Homo sapiens: one gene and its partner. Each later gene encodes a partner of the first gene's protein in a complex. Each region holds a gene or a part of one and is shown in the gene's direction. Other genes may lie near its edges. The genes, in order: ANLN and RHOA.

The links.
Region 2: the proteins of ANLN (region 1) and RHOA are in contact, whole or in part, in a crystal structure (PDB 4XOI), measured with the Homo sapiens proteins. Residues at the interface, in NP_061155.2 of Homo sapiens: Met729, Thr732, Val733, Tyr735, Gln736, Ala737, Gln739, Ala740, Cys743, Cys744, Glu748, His749, Gly750, Ser753, Glu755, Glu758, Ala759, Leu762; in NP_001300870.1 of Homo sapiens: Tyr34, Val35, Pro36, Thr37, Val38, Phe39, Glu40, Asn41, Trp58, Asp65, Tyr66, Arg68, Leu69, Pro71, Leu72, Pro75, Asp76.

The regions. Positions count from the first base shown.
Region 1 is NC_000007.14:36,382,569-36,394,876, forward strand, and holds the start of ANLN (anillin), read left to right. Parts: upstream 1-7,293; 5' UTR 7,294-7,398; coding exon of another isoform or gene 7,399-7,458; coding exon 7,459-7,476; coding exon of another isoform or gene 7,477-7,506; exon of another isoform or gene 7,507-7,789; intron 7,790-12,308. UniProt on the Homo sapiens protein: Required for cytokinesis. Essential for the structural integrity of the cleavage furrow and for completion of cleavage furrow ingression. Plays a role in bleb assembly during metaphase and anaphase of mitosis.
Region 2 is NC_000003.12:49,373,725-49,386,078, reverse strand, and holds part of RHOA (transforming protein RhoA isoform 1 precursor), read left to right. Parts: intron 1-10,487; 5' UTR 10,488-10,489; coding exon 10,490-10,645; intron 10,646-12,354. UniProt on the Homo sapiens protein: Small GTPase which cycles between an active GTP-bound and an inactive GDP-bound state.

The DNA.
Region 1 (12,308 bases):
TGCAAGCTCCGCCTCCCGGGTTCACACCATTCTCCTGCCTCAGCCTTCCAAGTAGCTGGGACTACAGGTGCCTGCCACCAGGCCCGGCTAATTTTTTTGTACTTTTAGTAGAGACAGGGTTTCACCGTGTTAGCCAGGATGGTCTCGATCTCCTGACCTCGTGATCCACCCGCCTTGGCCTCCCTAAGTGCTGGGATTACAGGCGTGAGCCACCACGCCCAGCCAAAAATAGCTTTAAGAAATCTAGGTATGGAAAAGAAAAGTTACCAATATAAAAAGTATAGTGTGATAAGTACATAAAATAATTCTTACTCTTTATGAAAGGATTTACTGTGGTCCTTTAAATATGAATTATCTTAATATCCTTATTAACCACGTGAGAAAATAAAAAGGAGATTAAAGTTGTATGCATTTTGAGATTAGTCTATTGAATAAAGGACTTATGCCTGTAGTTGCACTGGTTTTTGGAAACAATATAATATGTTCAGAAAGCACAATATGTTCATGCTCACTCTGGAATCTGAAACATCTTCATCAATTAAACTAGAAAAAAAATCTATGTGACACTAAGAATCATTAATAGTAAAGATTAATACCATTAATCATTAATAGTAGAGAGTAGTAACAAGTAAAATAGCCCTTTTCAATAACATATAGATAACATCCTTTGATGGTTGTTGTTTCTTCATTATAATAAATGTGTAGAACTAGAAATACCATTTGACCCAGCAATACCATTACTGGGTATATATCCAAAGGATTATAAATCATTCTACTATAAAGACACATGCACACATATGTTTACTGCGGCACTGTTCACAATAGCAAAGACTTGGAACCAACCCAAATGCCCATCAATGATAGACTAGATAAAGAAAATGTGGCACATATGCAGCATGGAATACTATGCAGCCATAAAAAAGGATGAGTTCGTGTCCTTTGCAGGGACATGGATGAAGCTGGAAACCATCATTCTCAGCAAACTAACACAGGAACAGAAAACCAAACACCGCATGTTCTCACTCATAAGTGGGAGTTGAACAATGAGAATGCATGGACACAGGGAGGGGAACATCACACACCAGGGTCTGTAGGGGGGTGGAGAGTTAGGGGAGGGATAGCATTAGGAGAAATACCTAATATAGATGACAGGTTGATGGGTTCAGCAAACCACCATGGCACGTGTATGCCTATGTAACAAACCTGCACGTTCTGCACATGTACTCCAGAACTTAAAGTATAATAATAATTTTAAAAAGTGTAAAAGAAGTGGCCCTTCAGCCAAATAACCTGAGGTAGAGAACTTGAGTTTAGCTCTTCTTGCCACTGCCTTATGATTAGGTCTTGGCCTTTTCTCTCCCTGTAAAAATAAAAAGATTTGTGTTATTGTATTACTTTGTGAATTAAGTATAAATAGTCTAAAAATTTTAAAATTAAATATAAATAGTATTTTAAAAAGTATAAAAATAGTATAAAATATAAAATACAAATGTGTGTGACTGTATTTTGAAAAATTAACTGTAAATATACAGCATTTGGAGGGTCTTTGTTGCAGTCCCTGCTTTCAAATTTTTGTGTTTTTCAGCCTTTTTATCAGCAATTTTATCTGCAAAAGACATAATTATTATTTCCTTTGTTTAAAAGAACAGGTCTTGGAGCAAATACTCATTTTCCAGGGCTATCTTTAATCTCTAGTTATTTCTACTTCAGACTCTTGGTTCTATTCTTAAATTAATGTATTATGTTGTGGGTTTTATTTAAATAACTTGGGAAGTTTTGTGTTTTATATAAATAAGTAGGGAAGACACTTTTGATGATTTAGGCCAATCCCTTAGCCTCTATGCATCTCAGTTTTCCCATCTCTAAAATAGGAATAAGAGTTATGCTTATATTCATTTATTTAACAAGTATCTACTGCACTCATGTGCCAGAAGGTGCTGGGTTACAGCTATAAACAAGTCCCTGCACTGCCACAGCTTACACTGTAGTAGGAAGGCCTAGCTAATAAACATAAACACATAACTAAAATAATGTCAGATAGTGGCAAATGTGATGAAGAAGTCAGAGTAATAGAATGGAAAGTGATTGGTGGGCAGAGAAGACGGGGGTGGCCACCTGATCAAAGAAGTCTTCTTTCAGGAGGTAGCACATGCAAGCTTAGGCCCAAATAACGAGGAGCAGACGTGCTAAATCTAGAGGAAGAGTGTCCAGGCAGTGGAAAGTCCTTGAGGCAGGAAGAAATTTGGCATTTTTTTATGACCAGAAAAAAGGCCTGAAGCTGGAGCATAGTGAAAAGAAAAAAAAAAAAAGGAAAGTATTGTGATGTTAGGAGAATACTAGGTTATTCGGAGAGGCAGGTAGATTCCAGATCATGCATGGCCTTGTAGGTATGATAAGGATATTATTGGATATCATTTTAATTACAACGAAAGACATAGAGCAGCTCCAAACAAGGAATTGACACTGCAAAATTTACATTTGAAAAAGATCCCTCTCTATAAATAAATTACTAAAACTAAAAAGATCAGCAACAACAAAGATACGTAGGAATAAATTTAACAAAAGTTTACAGATCTTTATGTAAGTTTGTTATAGACATTTTTAGCAGGTATAATGAAGATATACCATGCTCATAAATGGGTAGCATTGCTGTCACAAAGATGCGAATTCTCTCCAAATTATGTGATAAATTCAGTGCAATTTGAATTAAAAATCAGAAGAGGATTTTCTTTTCTTTTCTTTTTGGATCTTGAGAATCTGACCCTAAAATTCATGTGGAAGAACAATGAGGCAAAATAATCCAAGTTGAATTGGAATTTGCCCTACCAGATATCAACATTTATAACTAATATAGTGTGATATTGGGAGAGGAATAGATAGACCAGTAGAACAGAATAGAGTCCGACATAGACCTATGTGTACATAAAAAGTTGAGGCTGAACATAGTGGCTTACACCTGTAATTCCAGCACTTTGGAAGGCCAAGGTGGGAGGATCATTTGAGGCCAGGAGTTGGAGACCAGCCTGGGCAACAAAGTGAGATCCTGTCTCTACAAAAAATTTTAAAAAGTAGCGGGTTGTGGTGGCATGCACCTGTTGTCCCAGATACTTGGAAGGCTGAGATGGGAAGATTGCTTGAGGCCAGGAATTTGAAGCTGCAGTGAGCTGTGATCGTGCCACTGCACTCCAGCCTGGGTGACAGAGCAAGACCCTATTTCAAAAAATAAAATAAAATAAAATAAAATAAAATAAAATAAAATAAAATAAAATAAAATAAAATAAAATAAGATAAAGAAAGAACTGTTGGGTAGGCGCAGTGGCTCATGCCTATAATCCCAGCACTTTGGGAGGTCTAGTTGGGTGGATCACTTGTGGCCAGGAATTCGAGACTAGCCTGGCCAACATGGGGAAACCCCAACTCTACTAAAAACACAAAAATTAGCCAGATTTGGTGGCATATGCCTGTTGTCCCAGCTACTTGGGAGGCTGAGGCAGGAGAATCGCTTGAACCCGGGAGGCAGAGGTTGTAGTCAGCCGAGATCAGGCCACTGCACTCCAGCCTTGGCGAAAGAGCGAGACCCTGTCTCGGGAAAAAAAAAAAGAAAAGTTGATATATGATAAAAGTGGCATTACAGGTCAATGAGAGAAAGGATGGACAATTTAATAACTGCTGCTAAGACAACTGGTTATCCATACAAAAAACAAGATCAATCCAGATAGTTTAAAGACAAAAGCATGAAAAGCCATACTTTAAAATATTTAGAAGAAAGTACAGCAGAACATCTTTATTATCTCAGGGTATGGAAGGATTTCTTAAGGCATAAAAAACACAAATCCTAAAGGAAAATATATATGGTATATGTGTATGTGTATGTGTGTATGTGTGTGTGTGTGTGTGTGTGTGTATCATTAGTTATATTAAACATTTCTGTACATCTGAAACATCATAAAGTAAAAAGACAAGCCACAAACCAAAAAATTGGCAAGCCGAAAAACCAACCAAGTTTATTTTCCCAGAAAATAGTAAACAACCAACAAAAACCCTATAAATCCATAAGAAAAAGGCAAATAATTGCACAGAAAAATGGGCAAGGATATAAAGTTGAAAATCACAGAAAAAGAAAATTGAAAGTCCAATAAATAAAAAATCATGTTCACCTTCACTAGTGATAAGAGAAAGGCACTCAAACAAGAATGGCAAAATTTAAAATGTATCCACATATTGGGGAGGAACTAGAGCAGCAGCCAGGGGCATATACTACTGACTGGAGTATCATTTGTTATGACCATTTTGAAGAGCAGTTTATTTTTAATATCTGGTAATAATATTCCTAGGTATATTGCTCTAGAGAAAGTTTTGCATGTGCATATAAAGGATAGTCATGGCATCATGGGGTCTTTGGAATGAAAAACTGGAAATAAGCTAAATGTCCATTAACAGGATAATGGGTACATAAATTACAAGTATATTTGTATAATAAAATTTAGCAGTGAACATGAATGAAATGCAGCTACAGTTATTAGTGAGGATAAATCCCATAAAGATATTATTGGGCCAGAAAAAGTTGCAGAAAGACTTACATTCTGCAAATAAAATTTATATATAAAACACTAGATATTGTTATGGATATATATGTAGATGTGATAAAAGTATACATATTTCTATGGGAATGATAAACATCAAATCAAGATAGTTTTACCCTGGAAGAGTGGGAAGATGAATGAGAATAGGAAGGGACACACAGGAGACTTCAATTACATGTGGGATGTTTTGTATTTTTTTAAGCTAGGTGGCTGGTATATGGTTATGTTTTATTATTCACATTTTTATTGTATTTCATAACATAATTTTTTTGTTTTCAAATTTTTTTATTTGTTATATAACACAATTTTTAAAAAGATAAAAGTCATTCTAGCCTAGAAACTGAAGAATGAACTACCGGGGGTTAAGAATGAAAGGAGGTATAGTAGGAGACAATTGTAATACCCTAGGAGAGTAGACTTGAATATCTACCGTAGTTTCTGGCACATAGTAGGTGTTTCAGTCTTAGGAGTTATTTAATTGTGATGGTTGCCATTATCACTATCATCATCATTATCAAGGTAGAAACCAAAGACATAGTGGGATGGTGAGGGAAGATACACTAAATGTTGTGAGTAGCTATCTTATGCTAGGTGCTTTACCTCTTTTAGTCTTAACTAGAATCTAGTTGAGGTAGATACAAAGAAACTAAGGCTCATAGAAGTGATAGCCAGAAGGCACAACGGCTACATAAATTTCTAATGACTCATTTTCCAACGTTGTTTAAAACACGCATACACACACAGACACGCCCCAAATACATACACACCTTTCTTGTCACACTTGAAAAAAATGGAAGTATCTTTTTCCTTTGTTCATAAGTAACACATTCTGGGTTAAATATTAATAATTCCATATACTACACACTCGGACAGTGTCTTATTACTTATTATGAAATATTTTTGGATTATGTCTCTCCATTTTTCATCTGCCCCTCCTAACAACTCTGAGGAAATCAGGGCAGATGATTATTCCTGTTACACAGATAAGTAAACTAAAATACAAACAGGCTAAATCAGAAGTTCTTGTCCTGGTGTCCATGAACTTCACAAAATCCTGTTAAATAGTTTATGATTAAATGGTCATTTTTCTAGGTAGAGGGTCAGTTTTAACATATTTCCAAAGGAGTCCATGACTCCCCACAAAGGTTAAAAAAAAAAAAAACCCATGGGTTAACCGATTTGGCTAACTGGGTGGAGCCCTGACCCCAAGCAATATTTCCCTTACCTCTTGCCGTGATTTCAGTCACGTACAATTTATCATACAAAAATTCAAATTAAAAATATTAGTAAATTCTTTTTGTAATGTTGATTGACTGCTAAGATGGACATATTATTAAACATATTGAAACCACTCAGTTGGGAGGAATAGTTCTGTTTTGTTCAGCTCATGGACAGTCACTCTTAACTTTTCAGATGAACAAATCAAGAACTGTCATCTTTACCTGCACAGACTTGTTATAGAAGAAATGAATCTGATACAGAAATTATGTAACCTATCTTACAATTTGGAGTACTCTACAAAGAATAAGCAGGAGACACAGCCTTAGCTAGTGTGGAAAACGGGTCATGAGCTGAGAACAGGGTTTTCATTTCTTTGGACCAGTTTCTTTAACGTTTTCGGGTGTCCCTTCTCTCGGCAGTAAAAGGAAGGATTGAACTAGATAGAGGGCTTGTCAGAATTCCTCCCGCTCTAACACTGTACACAGTTGGATGGAATTTAAAATAAAAAATTGTGCATGAACGCTTCACACAGTCTGTTAATTTTAGCTTTATTTCATTGGCTTAGAGTGTCGGGGACCCACCGGAACTGGCTTTTCTGAGGGCCAGGCCTGCAGTCCCCCTTTTGGGGACTAGGAGTTGGGTGTGACCTAGGAAACAAAGCTACTGAAGGCCAACGGGCTAGCAGCACCTGAAACACAAGGGCTCTTTGTCTGGCTCTGTAGCCCAGGCTGGAATGCAGTGGTGTGATCTCTGCTCACTGCAACCTCCACCTCCCGGGTCCCAGTTCAAGCAATTCTCCTGCCTCAGCCTCCCGAGTAGCTGGGATTAGAGGCACGCGCCACCATGCCTATCTAATTTTTTTGTATTTTTAGTAGAGACGGGGTTTCACCATGTTGGCAAGGCTGGTCTTGAACTCCTGACCTCGTGATCTGCCCGCCTCGGCCTCCCACAGTGCTGGGATTATGTCCTGCCAACACAAGGGCTCTTAATCCTTTTTTTTTCTTTTTTGAGGCAGGGTCTCACTCTGCCGCCCAGGCTGGAGTGCAGTAGTGAGATCGCAGCTCACTGCAGCCATGACCTCCTGGGCTCAAGCGATCCTCCAGCCTCAGCCTCCCCAAATGCTGGGATTATAAGCATGCGCCACTACTCCCGGCCTTAATACTTTATTTAGGAATGAAGGAAGGCGGGAACACCCAAACGCGGTTGGTGTGAAGCAATCGCCTTAAAGCTGAGGGGAATGTGTGGTTGTTGGGGGTGGAGCCAGGAACCCGACGCCGTTGGAGAGCAGGAAGCGCCCCGCTGCCCGCCTCCACCCCGCGGCGAGGGCTGGGAGGGGGCCGGGAAGGAGGCGGGGCCGCCCCTGGGAACCACCCGGCCCGGCGCGGCCACGTGACCGAGCGCAGGGGCGGGGAGAGGGCGCCCCGGCTCCGCCCAGCGCGCATGCTCGCGGCTCGGCGCTGAAATTCAAATTTGAACGGCTGCAGAGGCCGAGTCCGTCACTGGAAGCCGAGAGGAGAGGACAGCTGGTTGTGGGAGAGTTCCCCCGCCTCAGACTCCTGGTTTTTTCCAGGAGACACACTGAGCTGAGACTCACTTTTCTCTTCCTGAATTTGAACCACCGTTTCCATCGTCTCGTAGTCCGACGCCTGGGGCGATGGATCCGTTTACGGAGGTGAGTGAGTTTGCGGGTGCAGCCAGCCATGACCCACCGCTCTAGGCCCCCACCCACCTTCCTCTGTCAACCTCTGGGCGAACCCCCACCGGGCGGAGGGCGCGTGTGTGCGCGCGTGCGCAGTGTGTGCGGGCCGGGGTCGCCGCGGCTGCGGCCTGCTGTGGTTGGTGGGTTCCTCTGAGATTTTGTTGTTTCGGTCCTACAGATAAAACTCAGGGAGGAAGGCTTTGAGTCTGTCCTAAAAGGCTGTTGCGAGAGGTCTTTCAGCCCCCGTTTTTACCATGTCCCTCTGCAGTCCTGGCGCAGCAAGAGTGAGGCGCAGGCCTGCGGAACGGGTCCTGCTGGAAGCAGCTGGAATGCCCTGCAGGGCGGGGTCCGGGGCCGGTGACTCAGTGCGGCTGCCGCCGGGAAAGGCAGTAGGATGTGTGATTTGCGGAGTTCACGCAGCCCGCAGGGGAGATGCTAATGAAATGACAGCAAAACGTTAAAATAAGCAGGTGCTAGAAACCACTGCATTCGTTCATAAAAAGCCAGTAGTTCCTTGAGATCCCATTGTTCAGCTAACTAACGAAGAAGTTCATACCCGGGACTGACCATTTTAATTGAAACAATGCAAGTGTACCGAGCAAAACTATCAGCTCACGATTTTAGAGCAAAGAAATAAACTTTTCGGTGTTTCTGGGGCATATCATTACAGTACTTATTTCATCTTTTGTTCCTTTGAGATTGCATATGGGTTACATGGTTATTGTGTCGATTTCTCTAGTTTTAGCTTTTGTGGAGAATGTGCGTTGTCACATTCAGGAGTGTTTTGTTGCCAGTTGTCCACTCTCTTTTATTCCAGGACAGTTCCTCTTTCTTTAGGCTGTTGTGCAAATTTCAAACTGTTAGTTTTTGAGTGTTGCAAAGTGGACCTAAAACTGTTTACACTGATTCAAAAACTTAAATGCTGTGAAGAGTGGTAATTCTTTCGGGGAGATGTAATTATAATTCTATAAGTTATGTATGAGATATTAATTACAGATTTCAGCAATTAGAGTTTACTTATATTCAAGCATGACATAATCTATTTTTCTGTTTCAAATTCTTAATCATCTTGGGACAAATACATCAATTTTTTTCACCTTCCTTAAAGGTTCTAATAGAAAAATCTAGAGCCTATTTTTGTATTAGCCTTAAAATAGGGCTGGTCATGCACCAAGTATCTTTCACTTACACTGAGGTCGAAAAGCGTGTATTTATTTTATCTAAACTAGAATACGATTCCTTAAAACATTAGCCCTATGTGTCTTCCTAAGTAACAGACAGGAACAAAGCATTTTTAAGTTGGCTGAAAATTGCACTTCATTTTACTTAAAAATGTCATTCTGAAGGTAGTACAAATCTCAACTGAAAGAAACTTTACCTGTTTAGATCGTTTTAGGATGTGCTCAGAAATATGTATGGTTTATATTATGAAAAGTTAGATCACTTGCAGTTGGAAAAACAGCTTAGACGTCTTTTCCTTAATAGGTAATGAATGAACTACTTGAATTGATTCCAACTCTTGGGTGCTTAATTATAGCATTCATAACATTTGCACAGTGAAATGAGCTACTGGTACAGTTGTCTATCAACTGAAAGTCAGTATAAAATGACTCTCTCAACCAGGGTTTCCTCTCAGAACCATGGTACACAGGAAAATTGAGAGACTATTTTCTCAATTCTCCCAAGGATAATTCAATGCCACCCTACAAACATAGGAAATAAGTCTATCATATTAACGCCAGCGTATTAGGGCTTAATTATTTTGGTAACTCCAGTTGAGAAAGGTTACAATCATGGTAAACTCTCTTTTCCTCAAACAAGACTGTTCTGCATTGGTCTTCCTCCCTGTGGTCGCTGATACTGTTCTGGCACTCTTTTTTTTTTTAAGACGGAGTCTCGCAGTGTCGCCCAGGTGACAAAACCATAAACTCACTACTCATAACGTCAAGAGTTTGAAGCTCTACTCACAGGTGATAGTCATCCCAGTACAAGAATACTACAAAGAAACCCAGAGTGAAGTGTACCAATCCAGAACTTTCTTTATAAAAACCTTAAAAGAGAAAAAGCTATAATTAAAATACTTCACAGAAGCATATTTTATTGTAGACGCTTTAGATCCTTTTATGTCTGCAGGCTGCATATAAATAAGTATGCAAATAAACATGCCACTACCATTTTTAGTGGAATTTCTCTTATTTTCCAGAATTAAATGAAGTTCCCTGGGGAAGAGCTGCTAGAGCATATTGAAAATAATAAGAAGTTAATTTATATTGAGTCTACTGTGTTAAAGAAGGCAAGGAAATTAGTAAAATCTCCTAGAAAAATTTGTCAGAGATGACTTTGGGGTGTATGTGGCAAAAGTTGTTCAGGGACTATAAGCTTCAGTTACCTGAGATTCATACATGTGGGCTATCCTACTTCTTGAATATGTTATTGCAGTGGTTTTTTTTTTTTTTTAATGCCTACACTGTTTGAGAAAGGTGTGATATTTCAAGGAATATACCTTGTATTTAAAAGAGTTTTAAAATTCCTGATATACTATTATAAGGAACGGCTACTTACATTTATTGAGCTATTGAGTTTATATATTTAAGATATATAATTTCTTTTAATTTAATAACCTTTGGTGTTTATAGCTTTACTTCACAGATTAGGGATCTTTTTTTGTGTATCTATTTAATTTTTTTTTAATCTGGGAATTTTTGAATCTAATGTAAGCAATAGAACATTCATATACGTTTGAATGACAAAATCACATTCTTTTGTTGTGACCTACTGCTCATGGTAACTGAAGCTGTACTGACTCACAAATGTTCTAACTGACCAGAATGGAATGTGGGCATGTCCACGAATGAATATAATTAGGCTAGTGTTGTATCTGGGAAGTGAGAGATATAGCAATTGAAAAATTACAAATTTATTAATTTAGAAAGGAGACATTATTTCTTTTTTCTTTTTTCGTTTTTTTTTTTGAGTCAGAGTCTCGTTCTCGCCCAGACTGGAGCTCAATGGTGCGATCTTGGCTCGGTGTCACTTCTGCCTCCCAGGTTCAAGTGATTCACCTGCCTCAGCCTCCCAAGTAGCTGGGACTACAGGCATGCACCACCATAACTGGCTAATTTTTGTATTTTTAGTAGAGATGGGGTTTCACCGTGTTTGCCAAGCTGGTCTCAAATTCCTAGCCTCAAGTGATCCGCCTGCCTTGGCCTCCCAAAGTGCTGGAATTACAAGCATGAGCCACTGTGCCCAGCAGAGACTTTCTTATAAAGGCTTACAGCCTACAGTGTGGCCATCCTGACAGGCTGGGAAACATATTTAATAGCTTCGGGCAGAGACTGGAAACAGGCACTTCAAGAGAGGAGAAGCTGGAACAGGGATTTATGCCTAAAGGGTTAGCCAGGTATACATATTCAACAGGTTATAGGCAGAGCTATGAGTATTTACAAAGGGGTCCTGATGGGTGGGTACTGAACAAACGTGCAGTTACATGCATCCCATGTTCACTTTGGGATGAAGACTTAACGTGGAAATACATTACAGTTGGGCCCTATATGTCAAAAGGTGAGGTGGGGACATGAAGGCATTCAAGTGAGCAGCCTCTGTAAACTGGCCAGAATCAGTTCATGGTTGGTGGTCTTCTTACTGAGATAGATTTATTGAAATCAATCTCTTGTCCAATTAAAGCTGTAGCTGTAGCTTGTGGAGCAGGAGGGTTAGTCAGTGTCTGATGGAAGATGAGCTGCAATTGTTTTAATATTTATTGCTTATCTCAAGGTCAGTGCTTGTTCAGCTACTAGAGTAAAAGAAAAACTTTGGCAGTTAGAAGATAGTTTATTTTTTAAGTGTAGGGAGTTTGTGACTTAACCCTTGCCTGGCATGGCCTTAGGTCCTAGTTATTTGTTTACAGACAGGGTCTCACTCTGTTACCCAGGCTGGAGTGCAGTAGCGATCACAGCTCACTGCAGCCTTGAACTCCTGGGCTGAAGTAATCCTTTTGCTTCAGCCACCCCACCCCCCAGGTAGCTGGGACTACAGATGTGCCCCACCATGCCTGGCTAACTTTTGTATGTTTTGCAGAGACAGGATCTTGCTTTGTTGCCTAGGCTTGATCCTGTTTATAATTTGATATCTTATTGCTACAAAGAGTCTTCTGTCAGTCTTATGATCTCTATTTAACATTAATGCTCATCAGTTATTGTGTTTAAACAGCAAAAGGAGGGGTATAACAAGGTGCATGCGGCCTCCTGTTCCATCATGGCTGAGAACTCGGTTTTTAAGGTTTCTCTGGGGTCCCCTTCATCAAGAGGGGATCTGTTCAGTTGGTTGGGAGGATTAGTATTTTATTTTTAGTTCTCATATTGTATCATGGGGGGAAATTATCGGACATATATGGATTTGTGAAACAATATGCTTATTCTTGAATTTGTTGAAGGACTTTTATTTAGCGGGTGAAGGTCTTGTATTTTGGAAGCCATTTGGTTCATAAATTATTTTTTCAGTGATTAGAGCATTTCAATTTAGTGTCACTTTTTTCAATGAACTTTAAATTAGAAATCATTCTTAAGAAGAGTAGAGAGTGTGCCTTCTTTCAAATTTAGCTCATATTTCTTTTACATACTCAGATTTTTAAAAAATTGTTACTGTATTTTAAGGAATTAAAAAGAGTCAAATGGAATTTAATTTTTCAGCCTGCACTAACTACTGTATCTGAGTATGCAAGGCAGTAATAATAATCTGCATACCTCCTTTAGTTGTGTGCATTTGAAAGAAAATGAATTGTTTTACAGGGTCTTGTGTTTGAGCTT
Region 2 (12,354 bases), on another chromosome or scaffold:
ACATACCAAAATTCAGGGGACCCAGAATAACCAAAATAATCTTGGAAAAAAACAAAGCTGGAGGACTCACACCTCCAGATTTTAAAACTTACTGCAAAGCAACAGTAATCAAGACTGTGGTACTAGTATAAAGGTGGACAATATAGACCAATGGAATAGGATTAATCCAAAGTAAACCCTCAGTTGCTAATTAGTTGATTTCTCAAGTGTGCCAGGACCATCCAGTTGGGGGGAAAATAGTCTTTTCAGTAAATAATGCTGAGGTGACTAGATTTCCAAATGAAAAAGAATGAAGTTGGACCCCTTACCTCATATCATGTATGAAAATTAACTCAAAATGAATCAAAGGCCTAAAGTGTAAGACTTAAAACTATAGAAAGAAGCATATATATTTTTTTTACGACCTTGAATTTGGCTGTGGTATTTTAGATATGCCACCAAACCATCAGTAACCAAAGGGAAAAATAGATAAATTTGACTTCAACAAAATAAAAAACGTTGTGCCCCAAAGGGCATCATCAAAAAAATAAAAAAAACAACTGAGTTTAAAAATGGGCAATGGGGGCTGGGTGCGGTGGCTCATTGCTGTAATCCTAGCACTTTGGGAGGCCGAGGCAAGTGGATCACCTGAGGTCAGGAGTTTGAGACCAGCCTGGTCAACATGGTAAAACCCCGTCTCTACTAAAAATAAAAAAATTAGCCAGGCGTGGTGGCAGACGCCTCCCAGCTATTTGGGAGGCTGAGGCAGGAGAATTGCTTGAACCTGGGAGGCGGAGGTTGCAGTGAGCCAAGATCGCGCCACTGCACTCCAGCCTGGGCGACAGAGTAAGACTCTGTCTCAGAAAAAAAAAAAAAAAGGTAGGGGGGCAATGGACCAGGCGCAGTGGCTCACCCCTGTAGTCCCAACACTTAGGGAGCCAACACGGGAGAATCACTTGAGGCTAGGAGTTTGAGACTAGCCAGGGCAACACAGCAAGACCCTGTCTCTACATAAAAGATAATTAAATTTGTTTTTCCCCCGAGACAGTCTTGCTGTCACCCAGACTGGAGTGCAGTGGTGCCATCTCAGCTCACTGCAACCTCCGCCTCCCAGGTTCAAACAATTCTCCTGCCTCAGCCTCCCGAGTAGCTGGGATTACAGGTGCCTGCCACCACGCTAGGCTAATTTTTGTGTTCATAGTAGAGAATGGTTTCACCATGTTGGCCAGGCTGCTGGTTTCGAACTCCTGACCTCAAGTGATCTGCCCATCTGAGCCTCCCAAAGTACTTGGATTACAGGCGTGAGCCACTGCACCCAGCCAAGATAATTAAATTTTTAGAAAGTGGGGGCATCACTTGAGCCCAGGAGTTTAAGACCATCCTGGGCAACATGGTGAAACTCCATCTTTACAAAAAAAACACAAAAATTAGCTGGGCGTGGTGTGTGTGCCTGTACTCCTAGCTACTTGGGAGACTGAAGTGGGAGGATTACCTGAGCCTGGGAGGTCAAGGTTGTGGTAAGCCATGATAACACCACCTCACTCCAGCCTGGATGACAGTGAGACCCTGTCTCAAAAAAAAAAAATTAAAAGTTGTAAAAGAAATACTGTTATTTGTGTATTGTTACTGGTGACTTAATTAGATATAACTGACTTTTGGTTAAATAAACCTCTACTCCAAACTTATAAGTTATTTCTGAGACTAAACCTAGCCTGGAAAATGACACGTCTGGGAGAGCTAAGCGTGATTTCCTTTCTTGACAAACCATGTACTTGTAAAGAATGCTGCATTATAGCAAAGTGGAAAGGAGAGATAATTCTGCAAAATTTCTCCTGCGTTTTTCAAGGAGAAAACAGCAAGTTTGATTTTCTGTGCTTGTACTTTTTACTTCTCAACTTCTGTGTATTGCCGCACTCCCAGTATCCCAGAAATCACTTAGGCTTTCATTTTGTCCGATAATCACTTGTAATTTTTGTCTTTGTCACCATTAGTGGCTAAATGATTTTATTCTTTTTCTGGGCCAAATGTTCTTTATCAGATATTTTTCTTTTTCTTTTCTTTCTTTTTTCTGAGACACAGTCTCACTCTGCCGCCCAGGCTGTAATGCAGTAGTGCAATCTCGGCTCACTGCAACCTCCACCTCCCAGGTTCAAGTGATTCTCGTGCCTCAGCCTTCCAAGTAGCTGGGATTACAGGCAGATGCCACCATGCCCGGCTAATTTTTGTATTTTCAGTAGAGACGGGGTTTTGCCATGTTTGCCAGGCTGGTCTCGAACTCCTGACCTCAAGTGATCCGCCTACCTCAGCCTCCCAAAGTGCTGGGATTATGGGCGTGAGCCACCGTGCCTGGCTGGACTAGGGTCTTTAAACGTGAATTCCCTCCCTATAAGCAAAGGTGGAGACAGAGTCTGGACATTCTAGGAAGGGAAGGCACAAACAGAATAGAAGACACATGCAGTAATCTCAGACACACCAGAGCACCCGGAAGGAATGGAGTGCAGGCTGAAAGTGCAGAGGGGAAGGTGGGGCTGGAGAGGGCCCAAGGACAGGCAATGATTTATTCCCCATCTATAAGGAAACTTTTCAAACCATAACAGAAGATTTAAGTCAATACTGGAACAAATATTGTGGGCATGTTGAACTATAAACAAAGCAAAGATAGCTCTTTTTTTTTTTTTTTGAGATGGATTCTCGCTCTATAGACCAGGCTGGAGTGCAGTGGTGTGATCTCAGCTCACTGCAAGCTCCACCTTCCGGGTTCACGCCATTCTCCTGCCTCAGCCTCCCGAGTAGCTGGGACTACAGGCGCCTGCCACCATGCCCGGCTAATTTTTTGTATTTTTAGTAGAAATGTTAGCCGGGATGGTCTCGATCTCCTGACCTCGTGATCTGCCCGCCTCGGCCTCCCAAAGTGCTGGAATTACAGGCGTGAGCCACCACACCTGGCCGAAAGAGATTATTTCTCAAGAATTGAATGTCTTCTAGGTAGGGTGCTACGCAAAGGTGGCAGCCTTTTCTTTTTCTTTTTCTTTTTTTTTTTCTGATACGATGGAGTTTTGCTCTTGTCGCCCAGGCTGGAGTGCAATGGCGCTAACTCGGCTCACTGCAACCTTTGCCTCCTGTGTTCAAGTGATTCTCCTGCCTCAGCATCTCAGTAGTTGGGATTACAGGTGCCCACCACCACGCCCACCTAATTTTTGTATTTTTAGTGGATATGGGGTTACACCATGTTGGTCAGGCTTGTCTCGAACTCCTGACCTCAGGTGATCCACCCACCTCTCAAAGTACTGGGATTGCAGGCATGAACCCCAGCACACTCGGCCAAAGCAGCCTTTTCTTGAACTGGGGAATTCCTGTTGACGTTTCTTTGCATCCCATAGGGTCCTGGTTGTTTGACTTTGGGCAAAAGCCCATGCAGATTAGGCCTTATGAGAGATGTAAAGTTTATTAAATCTTTATTTGGTGAGACAGGGTCTTACTGTGTCACTCAGGCTGGAGTGTAGTGGCATGATTTCAGCTCACTGCAACCTCTGCCTCCTGTACTCAAGTGATCCTCCCATCTTAGCCTCCTGAGTAGCTGTGACCACAGATGCGCACCACCACAGCCAGCTAATTTTTTGTATTTTGGGTAGAGATGGGGTTTCACTGTGTTGTTTAGGATGGTCTCCAACTCTTAGGCTCAAGCAATTTGCCTGCCTTGGCTTCCCAAAGTGCTGGGATTACAGGTGTGAGCCACCACGCCCAGTGTCTATTTTTTTATTTTATTTATTTATTTATTTTTGAGACGGAGTCTCTCTCTGTCACCCAGGCTGGAGTGCAGTGGCACGATCTTAGCTCACTGCAAGCTCCACCTCCTGGGTTCACCCCATTCTCATGCCTCAGCCTCCTGAGTAGCTGGAACTACAGGCGCCCTTCACGACGCCTGGCTAATTTTTTGTATTTTTAGTAGAGACGGGATTTCACTATGTTAGCCAGGATGGTCTCGATCTCCTTACCTCGTGATCTGCCCACCTCAGCCTCCCAAAGTGCTGGGATTACAGGTGTGAGCCACCATGCCCGGCCAATATTTTTTTATTTTTATGAGATAGGGTCTTGCTATTTTGCCCAAGCTGGTCTCAAACTCTGGACTCTAGCTGTCTTCCCACCTCAGCCTCCTGAGTAGATGGGATTACAGGCATGAGTTGCCACACTTGACTCTAACTGGGGAACTTCACTCTCTGTCTTTTTTTTTTTTGAGACGAATTTTCGCTCTTGTTGCCTAAACTGGAGTGCAGTGGCACGATCTCAGCTCACTGCAACTTCCTCCTCCCGGGTTCAAGTGATTCTCCTGCCTCAGCCTCCTGAGTAGCTGAGATTACAGGTGCGGACCACCATGCCCGGCTAATTTTTCTATTTTTAGTAGAGATGGGGTTTCACCATGTTGGTCAGGCTGGTCTCGAACTCCTGACATCGTGATCCACAGGCCTCGGCCTCCCAAAGTGCTGGGATTACAGGCGTGAGCCACCATGCCAATCCTTTTTTTTTTTTGACAGAGTCTCACTGTGTTGCCCAGGCTGGAGTGCAGTGGCGCGTTCTCAGCTCACTGCAACCTCCGCCTGCCTAATTCAAGTGATTCTCATGCCTCAGCATCCTGAGTAGCCTTTCAGGGGTTACAGGTGCCTGCCACCAACCCAGCTAACTTTTTTTTTTTTTTTGAGACGGGGTTTTTCTCTTGTTTCCCAGGCTGGAATGCAATGGCGAGATATCGGCTTACTGCAGCCTCTGCCTCCTGAGTTCAGGAGATTCTCCTGCCTCAGCCTCTCGAGTAGCCGGGATTATGGGTACATGCCACTACGTCCAACTTATTTTTATATTTTTTGTAGAGACGGGGTTTCACAATGTTGGCCAGGCTGGTCTTGAACTCTGGACCTCAAGTGATCCGCCTACCTCAGCCTCCCAAAGTGCTGGCATTACAGGCATGAGCCATTACTCCTAGCCTTGACTGCATGCTCTTGTTTGAAGATATGCATTGAGCACATTTCCCTATCATCGATATGCTTCTTATTGTGCTTTCATGATTAGTAGTATCTTCAATTTACTCCCTTTTTGCAAAAAAAAAAAAAGTTACTAGATTTTGTAGATTTGGATAAAATTCTATAATATCTGTATCTATATATATACACACACACGTATTCACTGCTGTATGTAATATTGTCCTGAGAATTCACAAATGAGTAATGGCAGCACTGTCAGCCCTCTGAGTTTTTTTGTTTTGTTTTCATTGTTTATTTTTGTCGTTGTTTGCCCTCTGAGTTTTCTTCTGGTACCCCTGTGGATTGTCTTATCCATTCTGGTTGGGGAACATACCCTTTAGACAATATAGTTTTGATAATGAGTATTTATTATTATTATTATTATTATTATTATTATTATTATTATTATTATTTTTGAGACAAGAGTCTCTGTCACCCAGGCTGGAGTGCAGTGGCATGATCTTGGCTCACTGCAACCTCCACCTCCCAGGTTCAAGCGATTCTCTTGCCTCACCCCACCACGCCTGGGTAATTTTAATATTTTTAATAGAGATGGGGTTTCATATGTTGGCCAGGCTGGTCTCAAACTCCTGACCTCGTGATCTGCCCGCCTCGGCCTCCCAGTGTGCTGGGATTACAGGCGTGAATCACCATGCCCAGCTGAGTGTATATAATTTAGGATTAGTTTGACTATAGGTAACAGAGACTTGAAAAATACCACCTTAAATAAGACAGTCATTTATTTCTCATTCATATGGAAGAAACATGGAAGGTAGGCAGTCTTGGGGCTGAGATGGTGGCTCCCAAGATCACCTGAGATCCAGGCTCCTTTTTACCTTTTGGTTCTTCCAGCCCCACGGTATGGCATTCATTCTCACATACCAGGATGGCTGCTTAGAAACCAGCCCTTACTTTAGATTTAAGCAGCAGGAAAGGAGGAGGATAATAAAGACTTCCCTTTAAGAAAGACTTTCTGGAAGTCCCACAACATACTGCTGATTCTCACATCTCATGGTACATGGCCATGTCTCCAAGGGAAGCTAGGAAGTGTAGTCTACAACAAAGTACATAGCTAAAAATCGAAGTATGGTCTAGGAGGGAAGGGCGGGAATTGGGATGGTTGACCATCACTGTCTGCCAGATGGAAGGAATCTGCAGATTTCTCTCTTTTTTCCCCCCACTGGGGGCGAGAGTGGTGGTAACAGCTTTATTGAAATATAATCCACATATCTTACAATTCACCTTTTTAAAGTGTGAATTATATATACTGTGGGCTGGGTGCGGTGGCTCACGCCTGTAATCCCAACACACTGGGAGAGACAGGCAGGAGGATCGCTTGACCTCAGGAGTTTGAGAGCAGCTGGGGCAACGTGGTGAAACCCGGTCACTACTAAAAATACAAAAAATTAGCCGGGTGTGGTGGCATGCACCTTTAGTTCCAGCTACTTGGGAGACTGAGATTGGAGGTTCACTTGAGCCTGGGGAGGCTAAGGTTGCAGTGAGTGGAGATCGCACCACTATACTCCAGCCTGGGCAACAGAGTGAGACCCTGTCTCAAAATAAATAAAATGTGTGAATTATATATACTATAATCAATAGTTTATAGTATATTCATAGAGTTGTGCAGCCATCACCACAATAATTTTGGAAAAATCTTTTTACCTGAGAAACTCCAGTATTCCATTAGTCATTTTCCATTTCTCTCCACCCCCAAGTCCCTGCCCTAGGCAACTACCAGTCTATTTTCTCTTTCTGAATTTGTTTATTCTGGACAATTTTATATAAATGGAATCATGCATGTTGGTTTTTGTGACTGGGTTCTTTCACTTATATAACATTTCCAAGATCTATCCATACTATAGCATATATCAGTACTTTATCCTTTATCGCTGAATAATATTCCATTCCATTGTATGGATATATTATATTCATCAGTTGTTGGATATTTGGGTTCTTTACATTTTTTGACAATATATTATGAATAATCCTGCTATGAATATTCATGTAGAGGTACAAGTTGTTATGTGGACATATGTTTTTGTTTCTCTTAGATATATACCTAGGAATAGAATTGCAGGGTCATACCTACTCACATCCTTTGCTCATTTTTTAATTGGATTAGATTATTTGTCTTTTTATTATTGAATTGTAAGAGTTCTTTATTTTTTAATTTTTTCTATATACTGTATTTAGGCCTGGGGAGGTGGCTTATGCTTGTAATCCCAGCACTTTGGGAGGCTGAATCGGGAGGATTGCATGAGCCCAGGAGTTTGAGACCAGCCTGGGTAATATAGTGAAACGCTATCTGTATAAAAATTAGTCAGCTGTGGTGGCAGGAGCCTGGTAGTCCCAGCTACTGGAGAGGTTGAGGTGGGAGGATCGCTTGAGTTGAGCCTGGGAGGCAGAGGCTGCAGTGAGCCAATATTGCACCACTGCATTCCAGCCTTGGTGACAGAATGAGACCCTTTCTGAAAATAACTACATAATAGAGAAACACATAGATAGGTTAGATAGGTACATAGATTGGATAGATGCGTAGATAGATGGGCAGTGGCTCACGCCTGTAATCCCTCAGCACTGTGGGAGGCCGAGGCGAGTAGATCACTTGAGCTCAGGAGTTGGAGACCAGCCTGGGAAACATGGCAAAACCCTGTCTCTGCCAAAAATACAAAAATTAGCTGGGCGTGGTGGCGCATGCCTGTGGTCCCAGCTGCTGGGGAATTTGAAGTGGGAGGATCACTTGAGCCTCGGAGGTGGAGATTGCATTGAGCCAAGATCACGCCACTGCATTCCAGCCTGGGTGACAGAGTGAGACCTCATCTCAAAAAAAAAAAAAAAAAAAAAAAAGATAGATGGATAGATAAATAGCGTACTTCATGTCAGAAGGAGTTCTCTCTTTTTTTTTTTTTTTTTTTTTAAGACACAGTTTCACTCTGTTGCCCAGGCTGGAGTGCTCTGTTGCCCAGGCTGGAGTGCAGTGGTACAATCTGGGCTCACTGCAACTTCTGCCTCCTGGGTTCAAGCGATTCTCCTGCCTCAGTCTCCCGAGTAACTGGGATTACAGGTGCCCACCACCACACCCGGCTAAGTTTTGAATTTTTTGTAGAAACGGGGTTTTGCTGGGTTGGTCAGGCTGGTCTCGAACTCCTGACCTCAAGTGTTCTGCTTGCCTCAGCCTCCCAAAGTGCTGGGATTACAGGTGTGAGCTACCGTGCCCAGCCCAAAAAGAGTTCTTTATGATTTCAACCTTGCAAGAGATCCTGAGCCAGACCACCAACCTAAGCTGCTTTTTTGTAGTTGAGTCATAAGAGTTTGAGACAAGGTTCCACTCTGTCACCCAGGCTGGAGTGCAGTGATGCAATCATAGCTCACCACATCCTCCACCTCCTGGGCTCAAGCAATCCTCCCACCTCAGCCTCCTTGGTAGCTGGGACTACAGGTGCATGCTACCACAACTGGCTGATTTTTTTTTTTTTCTTTTCCTTCTTTTTTTAGAGACAGTGTCTCACTGGGGTTCCCCAGGCTGGAGTGTAGTGATGCAATCTCAGCTCACTGCAGCTTCCACCTCCAGGGCTCAGGGGATTATCCCACCTGAGCCTCCCAAGTAACTGTGATTAGCATGCACCACCGCTCCTGGCTAATTTTTTGTATTTTTAGTAGAGACAGGGTTTCACTATGTTTCCCAGGCTCGTCTTGAACTCCTGGACTCTCAAGCAGTCCACCTGTTTCGGCCTCCCAGATTGCTGGGATTATAGGCGTGAGCCACTGCGCCCGGCCCTTTTCTTTCTCCCCTCCCCTCTCATGCTTCCGTCCGTCCTTCCTTTCTCAGTGTCTCACTATGTTGTCAGGGCTGGTCTCTTAACTCCTGGGCCTGAGCATTCCTCCTGCTTCAGTCTCCCAAAGTGTTGGGATTACAGACATGAACCACTGTGCTCGGCCTCAATTGATTTTTCTTTTTTGAGACGGAGTTTCGCTCTTGTTGCCCAGGCTGGAGTGCAATGGCATGATCTCGGCTCACCACAACCTCTGCCTCCCGGGTTCAAGCGATTCTCCTGCCTCTTGCTCCTGTGTAGCTAGGATTATAGGCATGTGCCACCACGCCTGGCTAATTTTGTATTTTTGGTAGAGATGGGGTTTCTCCATGTTGGCCAGGCTGGTCTCAAACTCCTGACCTCAGGTGATCTGCCTGCCTCGGCCTCCCAAAATGCTGGGATTATAGGCGTGAGCCACCGCGCCCAGCCAAGAATGCTGTTTCTTTACAAACAAATCTAGATTGGTAAAAGAAGGAATATCCAAACTTAGAAAGATTGCAGAATGTCTACCCAAACAACCTGCCGATGACTTTTTTGGTTCTTTCCTCCCTTGGGTACTCCCTTTCATCAGTCCTTTCATTGTTTTTACCCTGCTTGACAAATTGTTTCCTTTTTTTTTTTTTTTTTTTTTGTGAGATGGAGTCTTACTCTGTCCCCCAGGCTGGTGTGCAGTGGCCCGATCTTGGCTCACTGCAAGCTCTGTCTCCTGGGTTCACGCCATTCTCCTGCCTCAGCCTCCCAAGTAGCTGGGACTACAGGTGCCTGCCACCATGCCCGGCTAGTTATTTGTATTTTTAGTAGAGATGGGGTTTCTCCGTGTTAGCCAGGATGGTCTCGATCTCCTGACCTCGTGATCCACCCGCCTCGGCCTCCCAAAGTGCTGGGATTATAGGCGTGAGCCACTGCGCCTGGCTCAATTGATTTTTTAATGTTAATATTGTATCCTGCAACCTTACTGAACTTGTTTATTCTAAAAGTTTTCTTTAGGATTTCCCACATTACAAAATCATCTCATGTGTGAATTGAGATAGTTTTACTTCTTCCTTTCCAATTTGGATGTCTTTTATTTCATTTTCTTACCTTATTGCCCTGGCTAGGACCTCCAGTATCCTGCTGGATAGAAGTAGCAAGAACAGGCCAGGCGTGGTGGCTCACGCCTGTAATCCCAGCACTTTGGGAGGCTGAGGCAGGTGGATCACCTGAGGTCAGGAGTTCAAGACCAGCCTGGCCAACAAGGTGAAACCCCATCTCTATCAAAAATTAGCTGGATGTGGTGGTACGTGCCTGTAATCCCAGCTACTTGGGAGTCTGAGGCAGGAGAATTGCTTGAACCCGGGAGGCTGGAGGTTGCAGTGAACTGAGATTGGGCCAGTGCACTCCAGCCTGGGCGACAGAGTGAGACTCCGTCTCAAAAAAAAAAAGAAGTGGCAAGAACAGACATTCTTGTCTTGTTCCTGATCTTAGGGGGCAGACCTTTTTTTCAGTCTTTTACCATTAAGTATAATGTTAGTTACGAGTTTTTAATGTATAACCTTTTGGTGCCAGGTGGATCGGCGTACTAGAAGTTTGAATTTGAGTATGCTAATAGAGGTTTATGCCCCATGGTTACCAAAGCATGTGTCATCCTGTAAGCTACCTATGACTTCTTGTGCATTGCAGGTAATATCTGTGTTTTGTGTTTCAGCAATGGCTGCCATCCGGAAGAAACTGGTGATTGTTGGTGATGGAGCCTGTGGAAAGACATGCTTGCTCATAGTCTTCAGCAAGGACCAGTTCCCAGAGGTGTATGTGCCCACAGTGTTTGAGAACTATGTGGCAGATATCGAGGTGGATGGAAAGCAGGTGAGTATACTTTTCATAACAACTGATGCCATTTTCCATGTTAGAATATTTATGGAGCATGTAGAGAATTAGAGCTTTTTGCCTCTTCAGTATACCATATAACAAAAATGTTGGAAAGAAGAATCCATTCTCATCCTGCCATCTTAGTCCAAGTTTGTTCTTTTTTTTTTTTTGGAGACGGAGTCTCATTCTGTTGCCCAGGCTAGAGTGCAGTGGCTCGGTCTTGGCTCACTGCAACCTCTGCCTCCCAGGTTCAAGTGATTCTCCTGCCTCAGCCTCCCAAATAGCAGGGATTACAGGCATGTTGCCACCATGCTGAGCTCATTTTTCGTTTAGTAGAGATGGGGTTTCACCAGGCTGGTCTCAAACTTCTGACCTCGGGTGATCCACCCACCTCAGCCTCCCAAAGTGCTGGGATTACAGGAGTGAGCCACTGTGCCCAGCCTTCCCCCAGGTTTAAAGGATTCTCCTGCCTCAGCCTCCCCAGTAGCTGGGATTACGGGAATATGCCACCACACCTGGCTGATTTTTGTATTTTTAGTAGAAATGGGGTTTCACTACGTTGGCCAGGCTGGTCATGAACTCCTGACCGCAGGTGATTGGCTGTTTTTTCATTTTTAACTGCTACTCATCCAGACTTTGTTTACATTCATATGTATTTGACATGGTGTCCTTAGCATATGTGTTTTTTTTTTGTTTTGTTTTGTTGTTTGAGACAGAGTCTCGCTCTGTCGCCCAGGCTGGAGTGCAGTGGTACAATCTCAGCTCGCTGCAACCTCCACCTCCCGGGTTCAAGCAATTCTTTTGCCTCAGCCTCCAGAGTAGAGTAGCTGGGATTACAGGCGCACGCCGCCATGCCTGGCTAATACTTGTATTTTGTAAAGATGCAATTTTGCCATGTTGGCCAGGCTGGTCTCAAGCTCCTGACCTCAGATGATCCACCTGCCTCAGCCTCCCAAAGTGCTGGGATTACAGGCGTGAGCCACCTTGCCCAGCCATATGTGCTCTTTTCAAGTTTACGTATATTTGAAGTTTAGTTCATTGCCATATAGATAATGCTCAGATGAACTTCTTTGTATGCTTGGACTTTGACAAAAATTCTGTCAAAGTATTTAATCAGATGTCCCAGTATTAGATTACTAGTTCAAGCTCTGCCTCCTGGGTTCACGCTGTTCTCCTGCCTCATCCTCCCAAGTAGCTGGGACTACAGGTGTCCACCACCAGACTGGCTAATTTTTTGTATTTTTAGTAGAGACGGGGTTTCACCGTGTTAGCCAGGATGGTCTCGATCTCCTGATCTTGTGATCTGCCCGTCTCGGCCTCCCAAAGTGCTGGGATTACAGGCATGAGCCACTGTGCCCGGCCAAAAGATTTTTTTTTACTTTAACATAAAATAGCCTGCCACAGTTGTTTTATTTTATTGTCATTGATGGTGAGAACAGTGCTTCCCCATTTCTGTCCTAAAAGCCCTCTGGCAAGACTGGAACAAAGCTCTTGTGAAATTGGAGGGTTTTTTTGGGTTTTAATTTTGGTTTTGGTTTGTTTTTGTTTTTTTTTTTAATCTTCTGCTTCCTTTTGTTGTCTAAGTAATGCTTTGCTTGGCCTCTCATACTTTTTTTTTTTTCTCTTAAATAAAGAGACAGGGATTGTACTTTGTCTCCCAGGCCTGCAGTGCTGTGACATGATCATGCAGCCTTGAACTCTTGGGC